Linked DNA regions of Homo sapiens. The protein of the gene in region 1 interacts with the protein of each later gene in a pairwise test. Each region holds a gene or a part of one and is shown on either strand. Other genes may lie near its edges. The genes, in order: C9orf43 and RABGAP1L.

Region 1 (7,280 bases):
CCTCCAAGAAACCCTAATCTACTTTTTCACAGCATATGAATACTCCTCTTACCAGAATGTGACTCATCTTCTTGCGCCATCCCTCATGTACCCATAAACAAAGCAAAAACAAAAACCTCTAGTTTTATGTTTCTTTTGCATCAGCTGCTTCCCCAACTAGTCCCTAGGTAGATTCATTCATTCTTTTCTCAATCTCCCTTTCCCTAAACAAACATCTTCCAAGCTGCCACCAGAGGTATTATGCTAAATTATAGCATTTCCATGGACTCCCTACCAGCACTGGTTCTCACCTTAGCTGTACACTGGGAGAAATGAAGAGCTTTAAAAAACAAACAAACAAAAAACACTGAGGCCTAGTTCCTACCATCAGAAATTCTGACTTAATAGCTGGGACACAGTCTGAGTATTAGAGTTTTAAAAGCTTCTTGGCTGGGCGCAGTGGCTCACGCCTGTAATCCCAACATTTTGGGAGGCCGAGGCGGGCAGATCACCTGAGGTTGGGAGTTCGAGACCAGCCTGACCAACATGGAGAAACCCCGTTTCTACTAAAAATACAAAATCTTAGCCAGGCGTGGTGGTGCATGCCTATAATCCCAGCTACCGGGGAGGCTAAGGCAGGAGAATTGCTTGAACCTGGACCCAGAAGGCAGAGGTTGTGGTGAGCCGAGATCACACCATGGCACTCCAGCCTGGGCAACAAGAGCGAAACTCCGTCTCAAATAAATAAATAAATAAAAGCTTCACAATTGGTCTTAGTGTACAGTCAAGGCGGAGCACCACTGGCCTGGATGATAAAGGTCAAAAGACTTAGCAGTCCATACAAGCCCCTGCCTACCTCTTTGGTGTGATAGACCACTCTCCCTTAAATACCCAACCCCACAACCACACTCAACTGCTCAGTGTTTCCTGAGCAGCTGTGATCCTCCTAGATGCCTTTGCACAGGCTATTCCCTCTCAAGAGTTCTTTCCCATATCAGGAAAACTCCCACACATACTCAAGATTCAATGCAAAAATCATCTCTTCCATAAAGCCTTTCTCAACTCAGTGAGGACAGGCCACTGCTCTATGAACATGACTCACAGAGGCACCCCAGTCACCCAAGCAAAATTGCTCCTATTGGAGGCATTGGGAAGGGGTACAAAAGGCACCAGAACGGAATTCAGGGGAGTGGTAGTGGTCACCCTAGATGGAGTGTTAACCTTGGATACATCACCTCCTGCCCGGGGCCAAGCCCTGATTCTGTCCACCTCCCATAAGAAGGGCAGGAACCTTCCAACCTTCAGGTTAGAGCAGATCATTGGCATCAGACAACTAAGTGAGATGGGAAGGAAAGCAAGAGGGCAACATCCTTCTCAGGAAACCTCATCTCAGCCCTCCCAGTGCCCCAGGATTGGAGAGCTCTTTCTGATGATTAAACAGTTGTTTTCATATTAAAGTCAGCAATGTCCAGTCTGAGACGGGCACAACGATCCTCCAAAGTTTGGGGGGATTCTTTCTCCCTCCTCCCATTCTCCACTCAAGTTGAAAAATTTTGGAGGGATAGGGGTAAGTATATGCCTGAGCTCAGACATAATAACGACTCCAAAAAGGGGAGATGTCCATTCTTGTGTCCAGCATGAGCACTGGAGCAAAAGAACTGCCTGACAAGAGTTGGCTCCCTGACTCCTGGATGGGGCTAGACAATGTGTTGATTTTAACGTGAGGCTCCAGAGACTCTCTACCTTGTGGCAGGAAGGTTAGGGGGCCCCAGAGCTCTGCTTCCTTAGAACTCTTTTGGGGTTCTAGTGAGGGGCCCCAGCTCTCCCTGCCTCATTGGAAAATGGGCCCTCAGGGTTTTCTCTTCAGTAACCTGGGCTTGTTCCTCTCCTGATCCTCAAAGTGCTCTGCCTTTTCTAAGGTAGAACCTGAGGAAAAGATGACTGGGATTCATGTTCATGGTCATCTTTCAAGCCCTCATGTGAAGCAGACATCTGGCTCAGCTTGTTTGTTTAGCAAATTTATGAGGGAAGGATGGTGCATGAGAGACCAGACAGACTGAAGCATTCCAAGAAACTCTGAGTGCCTGACAAAGGCAGGTCTCAAAATGACAAGAGCATGTTTAGCTTTTCCTGCCCTCAGATACCTACCCCTCAGGGATCCTATCACCCCCAACCAAGCATATATTCCCCTTACCATAGAGACGGTCATGAACGGTGGTAACTGGATGTTTATGTGAAGTGCTCTGGATCCCTGGATCACTCTTGGCTTTCTTTTTAGCCTCCTGAAACCCACATCAGGAGGAACAAATTAGGATTTTTGGAAGTAAAGAAAACTTTTTTCAAAAGGAATATCAAAAAGAAGGAATTTAACATCTACAACCAGACAAGAACTTTTTATCTATAACCAGATAGAAAACAAGGAGACCCCCACCTTTCATACATCCCTTCCCATTCCAGGCTGTAGACCTCTCCCAGTCCCAGCAAGCCCCTCACTGCCACTCTACCTGTTTCTTAATAGGTGTTTTCACCTTCTTCTGTTGCTGCTGCTGCTGCTGCTGCCGCTGCTGCTGTTTCCTGTAACCTGGTGACCAGAGAGCCAGCTTGATCCTCTTCTAACAGCCCCCTCTCTCCCACTGGAATGCCTGCTGTGCCTTCCTTCACAATGGTGACTCCCTGGTAAGGACCAAGCCAGAGGGGCTGCTTCCTGAAACTATTGTTTCCTGAGTTCTACATGTGACCCTGTATGACTGTGGCCACAAATATAACTGAATTGGACCACGTTAAAGTATGAGAAATGTGGGCTAACAGAAAATGGTGCTTAGAGATCCAGCAGCAACAGCAAATCTACCTTCTGTCTTCAGGTTATGTAATTTCTTCAAACGTTCAGGATATCGCAGTGCTGGTCTCTGGAGAAAGAAAAAAGAAAAAGAAAAGCTCTACTGCAGGTCTTTCCCTTTCTCCAAATGTATCCCCCAAATGCGTTTATTCATCCAGTCAACAAGCACATTTTAAGAACCCAGTGTTTTGCAGCATTGTACCAGGGGCTACGGAGGAAGGGAAAAGGTGTGGGGAACAAAGTGCAGAAGAAATAGAGAACATGGCCAGGCATGGTGGCTCATGCCTGTAATCCCAGCACTTTGGGAGGCTGAGGTGGGCAGATCACCTGAGCTCAGGAGTTCGAAACCAGCCTAGGCAACATAGTGAGACCCTGTCTCTACAAAAAATTAAAAATTAGCCAGCCATGGTGGCGCACACCTGTAGTCCCAGCTACTCTGGAGGCTGAGGTAGGAGGATGACTTCATCCCAGCAGGTCAAGGCTGCAGTGAGCCATGATCAACCACTGCACTACACCCTGGGTGACAGAGTGAGACCCAGTCTCTCAAAAAAGAAAAAAAAAAAAAAAAGAAAGAAATAGAGAACATTGCTCTCTCAACACTTCCCCATCGACTGGCTTTTACATACATAGAGCCCAGCCTTCTCTGGGGCATGGGTTCAGAGTGGAAAGGCAGAAGGGAGATAAGGAATAGAATGTCAACTCTTCCAGATTTGAGGAGAGATGGGTTTGAATTTTCACATAGGCTTCTTCCCTGCTGTTTCCTAGCTCTTACTTCCAGGGTGAGGCGGTGTATAGATAGAAACATCTTAGAAGAAATCACACTGTCAGGTCGGTTCTTTTCCAAGGGAAGATTCTTTTTCATCATGGCCAATTTTATCTTCATCTCTGGACAGAGCATGGTTTGCTTTCCACCTGGCAAAAGTCTGAAGGGGACAGAGGACAGCCAGACAGTCAGCAACAGCTCTTCCCGGAAAGCATGGCTGAGGAGAAAGAGATGTAAAGGGCTCCAAGAAATTTCCACTTTGGGTCTGAAAAGGCCTGTACCAACAAGTGTTCATTTGGTAACACTTTTCTGATGCAACTACGATCATCATAGCTGCATATACTCAGTGCTGATTCTATGTCAGGCTCATGTGCTTTTACAACACCTGAGAACAGATATTACTCCCACTTTGCAAATGAGGAAAATGAAGCTTTAAGAGGCTAAATACATTACCAAAATTCATATAGCCAGTTAAGTTTCAATGTAAAATTCAAAGGTCATCTCACTGCAGACCACATATTCTGCCTACCACTTATTCATAATTCACCTATAAAAAGAAGACAGTGATAGTGCCTACCTCCTAGTGCAAATTTAAATGAAAGTACATGTGATATGCCTAGCACAGGGCCAGGCAAATGGTAAGTGTGACAAATGGTGGTGGTTATGATGGTCATCCCTGCCTGTTGGTAAGTCCAAGAGTTCAGTAAACAAATCGGGGTGATAGTTTTCTCCCAGTCCTACTCAGAAAAAGCACACTGTTTAGACCCATCCCAGCTTCAGTAAAAAGCAGGTGCTCTGGCTCTCCCACAGACCTACATGATACTTACTCCTTCAGTAGATCCTGAGGTAACGCTTCGGATTGAGCCCAGAGAGGTAGGAAATCTGAACTGAATTGTTCAGACAATTGCACTGGGGTTGGGGGAGGCACGATCATCCCTGGTGTTCCTACTCGTGTTCCTGCGGACTGATTTCCAGAGAGACCCAGAAATGACTTGCTTTTCTGGAAGAGAAACAATGGAAAGAATTCTCCAAAGCATTCTTTTTAGCCTAGTCCTTTCCATCAACATTCTAGCCTCTCAACACTACCCTGGCATGTACTCCAGCCATGGTTGCCTCCTCTGAACGATGAGGGCCGCCACATGTTTCCCTCTCAAGCTCCCAACTCTGTTGTTGTATTCAGATCATACAGGGATTCGTTGTTTTGTTTCATTTTCCAGAAAGGTCATTCGTTTACTCACTCAACAAACTGAACAAAAATTTATTGTCTAATTATGTGTCAGGCACAGGGCTAGGGATGGGGATTCAGCAATGAACAAAATGAACCAAGACACTACTCTCATGGACATAGCAGTCTTACAGTGACTTATCCAAGGTCACATTTACTCATAAATGGTACAATTAGAGTTAGAAGCCCAGGTCTTATAACCCCTAGTCCATTGAAATTCTATATGATCACGTTGGGGATTCGTTTTTAATTGACCAAAAACTCCCCCCCTGAACACGCAACAGTTCCTCCTATTATCTCAAGGTGCTCTTCATCTCCCTATAGGAAGGAGACAGAAAAAAGGAGTCTCTGAATAGAGAATGGTTTGGTTAATTATTCCTAAAGAAGGGTTTTCTTTAGCAGATTTGGATCATTTCAGGAAAGAACGGGGGTAAGGTGGAGGAGACCTGAAAGGAAAACAAAATAAACTCTACATAGCAATATTATAAAGGTTTGCACAAAAACATCAAACTCACCACTGCCGAGTTCTTTCTTTTCTTCTTCCCATGCTGGCTGGAGAAAAACAAAACAAAACAAAACAAAACATGCTTCTCAGCTGGACTTGAAATAAGAGTAAGCACAACTTATTCCCAGATATCTTAAACAGAAGCTCCAAGGATATTTGTGAATGATGACCACAAAGATTCCTATCTTTGATCAGTACTCAAAGATAGCTGGTTGGGAACCCAGCAGTAACTGCTGCCCAAGTACCTTCTGCTAAAAAGACCCCCCATCCTCATATCTAAATTAGGTTTCCCATTATTCTCTCAGGCAATCCGGTTACCTACTTTCATAGCATGAATCCAAATTAGAAATGATATATGTAGGTGTGGTTATGTCTGTAATGGCTGACTCCCCCTGACAAGGCTCCAACAGGACAGGGACCAAATCTATTTGGTTCACTAAATCCTCACTGCTTGACACAGAGATGTTTGGTAAGAAGTATTTTTTGCTCTGACCTCTTCCTCCTTGCCTGGGACGTGGATATGATAGCTGGATCTCTAGTAGCCAACTTATACCTTAAAAGCAGCCATGAAACTCCTTAGAAGTTGGAATCCATGGGCTAAGGATGACGGCCCAAAAAGCTAGAAGGAGCCCTGGTTTCTAATTATCTCATGGAGCTCACATGACCTAGCCTGCCTACTTCTGAGCTTCTTTCACACGAAAGGAAATAAACCCTTAGGGTTGTTTTTCATTTGTTTATACCATATATACACACACACAAATGCATATATATAGAGAGAAGCACTCACAGGATTATTTTTTAAAAAGAAAAACAAAAGAAATAAAAAGAAATTCTTAAGTTTCATCATCTCTAAATGTCACTTAAGAACCTGAAAGCCTCAAGGATCAGGAAAGAAGAACCAAACACTTTCCCCATGGTTGTCAATATTAGCAAGCCTTTGGGCCTTCACCAAATGGTCTTTGTCACACTCTTTTGTACACAAGTCCTATATGCTATTGCTTTTGTACACTGTACTAGGCCCTGGGGTTGAGAACAGAGATTCACATGCTTCACTGAGAACTTTTTCACTTGTTGCAAGTGGCTAATAAGAAAAACTAAGAGAGAGCATTTATTTCTTAGTCAAGCCTTATAAGTAAGTTGAGCCCTATCTTGTATGCTATTTACTGCCGTGTAAAATTTGATATGGAGAAGTCCCACAGCATGAATCTCAAAATGCATTACATTAAAATTCCAGTGTAGCAAAAGGCAGATGCAACAGACCACGACCTTCTCTGCTTGGCCTCCTGCTACTTGCAATGAGCTGGCTAAATGGGAGATCACAAAAAGGACGCTGCAGAAGACATCAGGGATTTATAGAGTCAAAGTCCTCTGAGTTCCAGATATGATACTCACCTCACATGTATCTCTGTTTCTTCTGGGATCCACAATACAACCATATTTCTAACATCTTCAGGGCAGGGAAGTTGCGTCTCATTCAAATTCAACACTGGAAACTAAGAGAAAGATATAAAGCCTATGTATGGCTTGAGGTGCTAAGCTCCTATATCAGATTAAGGATATGCTAAGCAAAGAGTCTGGTGGCACAGAAGATGATTTTAAGTTTCCCATCTTCAAGATATCTTCATAATATTCTCCCAAAAAAAACAGACTACTCCATCAAATATCAGTATAGGTATCTGCAAGAGTGAGTATTAATAAGCAGATAATCTCCCCTGCTTCCCTGTGCCATTAGGGTAGCATTTAGCAACTCCCAATCCAATCCCATATGAGGGTGCCCTGGGGCTTACCTACAGGAACATTACTTATCCTGCCCACTCCACTCCAAAGACTTAGATCCCACAGACATTACAATCTGCAGTTTGGGAGCAGGAAGAGAACTGATAGAAACAGAAGCAAGGTGTTTTCTTTTACAGTCTGACTACAATTATAGGCATTTATATAAAAGTCAAAGGCTAACTCTTCTCACATTTAG
Region 2 (7,280 bases), on another chromosome or scaffold:
AATTTGTCAAAACTCATCAAAATGTACTATTAAATGGGTGCATATTACTGTATGCTAACTACCTCAATAAAGTTGATTTAGAAAAGAACTCTGAACGTGGACTCCAAAGTTTCACATGGCCAGGGGCCTACTTGCCTTTCATCATCAGCTACTGTGCTTCCCAGTCTTTCTAGTTCTCTGGGCATTTATACTTGGTGTTTCCCACTTACACCTAATTAATGTCTACTCCCCTTAGACTCAGGTCAAGGTGAGAGGCGAATCCGGCTGGGCTTCTGGGTCGGGTGGGACTTGGAGAACTTTTCTGTCCAGCTAAAGGAGCGTAAACGCACCAATCAGCACTCTGTCTAGCTAAAGGTTTGTAAACACACCAATCAGCACTCTGTAAAAACGCACCAGTCAGTGCTCTGTGTCTAGCTAATGGTTTGTAAACACACCAAACAGCACTCTGTAAAAACAGGCCAATCAGCACTCTGTAAAATGGACCAATCAGCGCTCTGTAAAATGGACCAATCAGTGCTCTGTAAAATGGACCAATCAGCAGGGCGCAGGCTGGGCCAAATAAGGGAATAAAAGCTGGCCACCTAAGCCAGCAGCAGCAACCCGCTCGGGTCCTCTTCCACTCTGTGGAAGCTTTGTTCTTTTGCTCTTCACAGTAAATCTTGCTGTTGCTCACTCTTTGGGTCCGCACTACCTTTATGAGCTGTAACACTCACCGCGAAGGTCTGCAGCTTCACTCCTGAAGCCAGCAAGATCACGAACCCACCGGGAGGATCAAACAACTCCAGACACGCCACCTTTAAGAGCTGTAACACTCACTGCAAAGGTCTGCGGCTTCACTCTTGAAGTCAGTGAGACCATTAACCCACCAGAAGGAAGAAACTCCAGACACATCTGTACATCTGAAGGAACAAACTCTGGACACACCATCTTTAAGAACTGTAACACTCACCGCAAGGGTCCGCGGCTTCATTCTTGAAGTCAGCAAGACCAAGAACCCACTGAAAGGAACCAATTCCGGACACAAAAGGACTTTCTCTAGTTTACTTTCCCAGCCTCTAGTTTACTTTCCCAGACTCTAGTTTCCATCCTCTTGTTAAGTGCTCTCCTTGCTCCCAGTAAATGGACAATGAATGAAATGAAATGCCATTTGGCCCTGAGTGGACAGTAAACAGGAACAAAGCAGACTTTCATACATCCCCACTGCCCACACATAAAGTTCTGCTATATTTGAGAGAAGAAAGTTGCCAAGAAAAAATAGTTTGGGAACAGGGCATCTCATGTACTTTGGTGTTGCCCCCAGGAGTCTGGTCTAATCCTGTCTGGGTACAGGACAAGTTCTGGTTTCATTCAATAAGTTCAACACTCTCAGAATGAAAGAAAAAGTTCTAGGTGTCTAAATCACTTAGAACTGAAATCAATGCATTCTCTCTTTATTTCTTTAAAGTAGTAATGGCCTGGACCCAGATTTTCAAAGGTTACTTTGAATTGCATTAGGTAATCACCTAATTCATTCTTTCTACCAATGTTGTATAGTGTAGACCAACATCTCCAGATTACCATCAACCACCCCAAACCAACCCACCTTTTGGAGGTGTAGAAAGAAGCTAGTCTGGCCTTACAGCAGCATATTCTGGCTTAAGGTAAGGAGTTATAGTCTCAGGTCTTGCAATAATTACTTACATGAATTTTAACAATTACTTTAATGTCTCTCTCTCTCTCTCTCTCTCTCTCTCTCTCTCTCTCTCTCTCCAGGCAGACAGACAGTCAAAAGTACTAGAACTGGGAAAAACCTAACATTTTCTCAGATCTCTAGGAGGTATAATTTACATTATAATTTATCATCATTAGAAGAATGACAACTTTCTATACAGCTCCAGCTCCTTTATTCACGATTATGCAACTATGAATAATTCTTTGGCTCAAAATGAAGAATTATTGGATAGTCATAACTAAGCTATTTTTTTAAAAAAGAAGGATGGGGAGGAAGGAAGACAGGAAAAAAGTCTCATAATAAAATATTAAAAGATGCTCAGGAGACTGAAGTTTGAATATTGCTCACATAACCTTCATTAGAATATGCTATAAAAGCAGTTCACACAGTAATAAAAACTGAGTCAAATAACAGCCATAATAATTTTATGAAAGATTTTTTTAAAACCACAATAATTTCCAAGTACATAGTATATAAAGCCGAGATGCGCCATGGCAGTTTTTTTAATATGAAAATGGGTAAGAGGCTTCTATATTTGTTTCCTGTACTGGTGCCTGCTTTTATCACACAGCAGTCCACATATTATAGTATATGAAGCAGCAAGCATTTTAAAACTTGGGAGAATGAAAGTACTAACAAAAACAGCATATAAAAGATGTTCATTATTCTAATAGAGCATTTTTATCCTGATTTTTTAAAAACTCACACAATTAGCATTCAAGTTATTTTTCATTATTATCTGCTTCCTTTGCTATAATACAAAAGTTACATATTTTATCTACTAATACTGCCTAATTTGAGGATATCATAGAAACCATAATTTTGTTCATTTAATATTAAAATAATTTTATAACCTCACTGATGAGTCAAACAAGATGTTCATATAATATTGTCTATCTAATATTACAGGCAGAAATAACTATAGAAATTAGGTATTTCTTAGAAACATTTTCATTAAAATTTTATAAGCATATGATATTTCTGTGCACTGCCTTTTTGGTTTTAAGTAATTGTTTATAAAAGGCAGAAACGTTGTTTTATATGCAGTCAATATTTCTGTTAAGAAGGTTCATACATTACAGGTTTCTAGGGAAAAAGTATGTAATTATTAAACTTGCTGGGTTTTTTTAGCTAATATTACCTAGATGTGACTTTTTCAAACACTCTATTGGTTGACTTCAAATATCATTTGATTTCTTTGAGGAATTGTATTGTTTTGCAACTTCAGGAATTATCTTGGCATTAAAAAAGAAGTGTGGAAAGAAAAATGTTTGTTACTATATATGAAGAGAACAAAAAGGTCCTACCTGTTTCAATCTCATGAAGAAAGTCTCTGTGAAAGTCTTTCTGCTGAAATACCAAAATCGCTCATTTGCAGGGTACACACGGACTACTGTCTCCAGGAGAAAGCGAACAGGCTCCACCACCTCTGTGACTACCATATCCACTGCCACAGTCATGTATACTTGCTTATCTGTAGTAGAAATTTTCTGGGTTTTATGCGAGCTTTATTATTCCTTGTCTACTTTAAACAAAGTTTCCTCACTTATGAAAGAATTAAAGTTCTTTACAATTGTAATACCTTCTATGTTTATTTTTAACTGTTCTATTCACATTTTGATTAAATAAGTATGCAAGTACTCCAAGCATGTTTCTTAGGAACTAATAATCCTAAGTGTTTGTTGTTTTGAGACAGAGTCTCACCCAGGCTGGAGTACAATGGAGCGATCTTGGCTCACTGCAACCTCCGCCTCCAGGGCTCAAGCAATTCTCCTGCCTCAGCCTCCCAAGTAGCTGGGATTACAGGTGCCCGCCACAACACCCAGCTGATTTTTAAAATATTTTTACTACAGACGGGGTTTCACCATGTTGGCCAGGCTGGTCTCAAACTCCTGACCTCTGGTGATCCACCCCCATCAGCCTCCCAAAGTGCTGGGATTACAAGCGTGAGCCACCACACCTGGCCTCATTGAGGTTTTTGAATCTATGGCCTGGTCATTCCATACCATTTTGTAATTTCCTCATTCCTTTTTAAATATTTTTTAAAATTTATTTTCTTTACAATTTTTAGTTCTCTGTTAAAGGAAAGTCCAAATAACCAAGGCCACCACTAGAAGAAACCCTCAATAGTGTTTTTAAATATTATATAACATTCAGATTCATCAACTACTTCTCAAATTCAATAACAATTTTATTACATTCTTACTAAATACAGTCTTACTAAATACACCTGCCAATTCAAGAGAAACTAAAATTTGTTAGACATTATACTTGACCTGGAGGACCTTAGAGAAAGGAGTAAGGAGTAATAACACAAGACAGAATATAACATTCAACTGGATCTTAGTGCAGTGGAAAGATCCAAGACTTTTCATCTCTCAGGTTCTAAACTTCTTCCATAAAAATCAAACTTTATTTGATCACACATTCTCTGAGTAATGTGTAATTTCAAGGACATAATTTAGAAATTTTAAAAATCAGGGCAACATTTTTGTGTGGCATATGAGATAATGTTAAATTTAAAATGTATACTTTGAATCAGAATATTATAATATACTATTATATAGTTTAATAGAATAAATTATAAATAAATTTTCTTTTGTGGACCAAATATATATTTTATTGCAAAATAAAACTAAACTAGGTGTTACATTAAAAACATAAAAACTATTTTTATAACTTGATATGCAAAATTCTTATATTTTGTTCTTCAAAACTGTCAACTGGCTTATTTTTATCATTTTTGTGGCTTCCTTCTGAACAAGTATAAGAAAGAAGTTACAGGTATTTGCAAGCCTGTCTCCAGAAATAACAAATTGTGGGTCTAAAAATTATTTACTGCTAATAAATGAAAAGTTAAATTTTATATAATCTTTTTTTCTGTTTAGCCTTTATTTTTAGACAGCTTAATATGTGATCAATGTATGTGATTTATATAAATGGTGAATACTCTCTTTAAGGAAATGAAAGAATAATTATCATTTTAATGCCCTTCATTAACATATTATATTTTCATATCAGTATTCACGAATGCTTCCTGTCAGTAACCAAAAGTCTACTGTGGGTATAAACTAAATAATATAAAAATTAATGATAAAACAAACTGATCCATTATATTCTAAATATGAATTAATGGTTTAATGACAGTAAAGCACTTAGGGTAGGCATATAACTCGGCAGGTAAAACTTTAAATTTAGTTTAAAAGTAGATAATGAAGGGGCAAAAAACAGGCAATTAACAGCTATCTGGATGAAGTAGGAATGAAAAAACACAATGGAACAACGAAAAATGTGACTATTCAACATTTATACATTCTGTTCAATACTAGACATGATAAATAATATGAAAAGTTAAAAAACTAAGAAAAAACTATTTGCTACAACTGAAATATTTAATATATATTACAAGCATCCCGAAGGCCAAAAGACTGGAGCCAATAATTAATAAATGAAAAACTATAAGTAAACTATAATGCAAAAATAGTTAATAATTTAAAAATATTCAAAATTCTAAAATATTTCCTTTTCATCATTTTCTTTAATATTTCTCCATCACTAGTCTCCACAAATGAAATAACTCTATAGTGGTATATGAAAAACAAAGCCCAAATGCTTTCTCTATAATCTAATAAAATTAATTCAGGCCAGGTGCAGTGGCTCACATCTGTAATCCCAGTGCTTTGGAAGGCAAGAAGATCAGTTGAGGTCAAAGGTTCAAGACAAGCCTGGGCAACAAAGCATGACCCCATCGCTACAAAAATAAAATTTAAAAATTAGCCATGCATGGCAGCACACACCTGTAGTTCTATTTAATAGCTACTCAGGAGGCTGAGGTGGGAGGATTGCTTGAGCATGACAGTTTGAGGTTACAGTGAGCTATAATGCCCCTATACTCTACCCTGGGCAACAGAGTGAGACCCTGTCTCTTAAAATAATAACAATAATAATAATTCACATATCTTTTGGGGAGGATTTTTTTAAATAGTGGAGATTTCCCCCATAGAAGCATAAAGAATAAAAATGAACCTCAAATTCTCAATGAAAGAATAAGTCCACTTTGAGTTCCAAATTTTTTTTAAAACATGACAAGCAACATTGTTCATAATATAAAATGTAAAGCAAACAATAAGGGATCTTTTAAGAAAAGTCACCTTTTGGGGTTTCCTCGTTAAGTGCCAGAAATACTGGTGCATTGGGGTTCCACATGCCAGTGATGACATAAGCTCTCCCATCATAGCTCTTTCCCATGGATTCCTATAAAAATTCAAACAGTAATTACTGATAAAAGACATCAAAAAAATCACTACTTTAAATTACATCTTACTTTAAGCAATACAAATTATTAAAATTTAGATTAACAGTCAAGCAGGAGCTTTATATTCACTGTAAATTCTTTTCATCCTACAAAAGCATTTATTTAAATATTAAATTCTTCTACAGCTTTCTTCAAGCACAGTTTCTATTTAAAGACATGTACCCTTGGATAAAAGGAGGCATATACTTACATGCTGAATCAAAAAAACATAATATTGTTACAAAGTTGTATTTAACTTGATCTTGACACCAATTGTCCAAATCTCATATACACATAAGAATGTATATGGTTTCTATTAAAACAATAATATAGAATTAGCTGAAGACAGTTAAACTGAACTAGTAGCTAATCACAGTAGGGAAAGTTAATATTTTTCTTCTAATATTCTAATTTTTAATGAATTCTTAAAATATTAATTTAGTTTGTAGCAATTAATACCTTTAAAATTAACACTTGTCTATTTTCTATATGTCAGATATTTATATACTTTCTTACAATCATAAATTAGTATTAGGAGACTAATTTTTGGTTTGTAAGCAGCATCCAAGTGTATTAACTCTCTCCCTCTACTGTTACACTTACTCCCTCTTTCTTCCCTTCTCTCCTTCCTCCTCTTCTCCATTCTTTAAGACTTTACCAAGCCAGCTCTTGACTCTCACTAAAAAAGCCAGCAACTCCTATGGCGAAAGCTAGGCTACTTATAGCTTGTGTATATGTGTGTGGAGAGAGGAGGGGTAGAGTTTGTCCCATGAAAGAACAACACACAGCATACAAGTATTTCCATATGCAAATGAACAGTATCTACAATATTTCAGTTTTTGTAGCGATTTCCTCACATTATGAATAGAGACTGTTAAAAGGGTCAGACTAAAACAAAGAGAAAAACTTTTCTTTTTTCATTATTACCCATTCACAGATGTTTCTCTGAACCCCCTATAAAATTGTGTCAGTCATTTGGTAATTACTATGTATATTTTTCTAGTGTATTAGTAATACTTCACTAATCAGATTGTGTAGCTTGAGCGCAGGGACCATGCATTCCAGAGATGAAATACACTCAAGGTCACTTGTAAACGAAACCCTCTCAGCAGCCCCAACACACTCATATGATAATGGTCTCTTTCTCTCCTCTACACACACACACACACACACACACACACACACAGAGTCACCTGTTGCTTAATGATAGGGTTATGTTCTAAGTTATGTGTCATTAAGTGATTTCTTTATGCAAATAGAATACACCGTACTTAT

What was found.
Region 2: the proteins of C9orf43 (region 1) and RABGAP1L interact in binary tests that used the Homo sapiens proteins (3 or more experiments, as listed by UniProt).

The regions. Positions count from the first base shown.
Region 1 is NC_000009.12:113,420,624-113,427,903, reverse strand, and holds part of C9orf43 (uncharacterized protein C9orf43), read right to left. Parts: intron 7,186-7,280; exon of another isoform or gene 7,096-7,185; intron 6,802-7,095; coding exon 6,701-6,801; intron 5,356-6,700; coding exon 5,319-5,355; intron 4,579-5,318; coding exon 4,406-4,578; intron 3,739-4,405; coding exon 3,588-3,738; intron 2,886-3,587; coding exon 2,828-2,885; intron 2,561-2,827; coding exon 2,484-2,560; intron 2,262-2,483; coding exon 2,174-2,261; intron 1-2,173.
Region 2 is NC_000001.11:174,274,518-174,281,797, reverse strand, and holds part of RABGAP1L (rab GTPase-activating protein 1-like), read right to left. Parts: intron 6,699-7,280; exon of another isoform or gene 6,609-6,698; intron 5,966-6,608; coding exon 5,863-5,965; intron 3,186-5,862; coding exon 3,019-3,185; intron 1-3,018. UniProt on the Homo sapiens protein: GTP-hydrolysis activating protein (GAP) for small GTPase RAB22A, converting active RAB22A-GTP to the inactive form RAB22A-GDP. Plays a role in endocytosis and intracellular protein transport.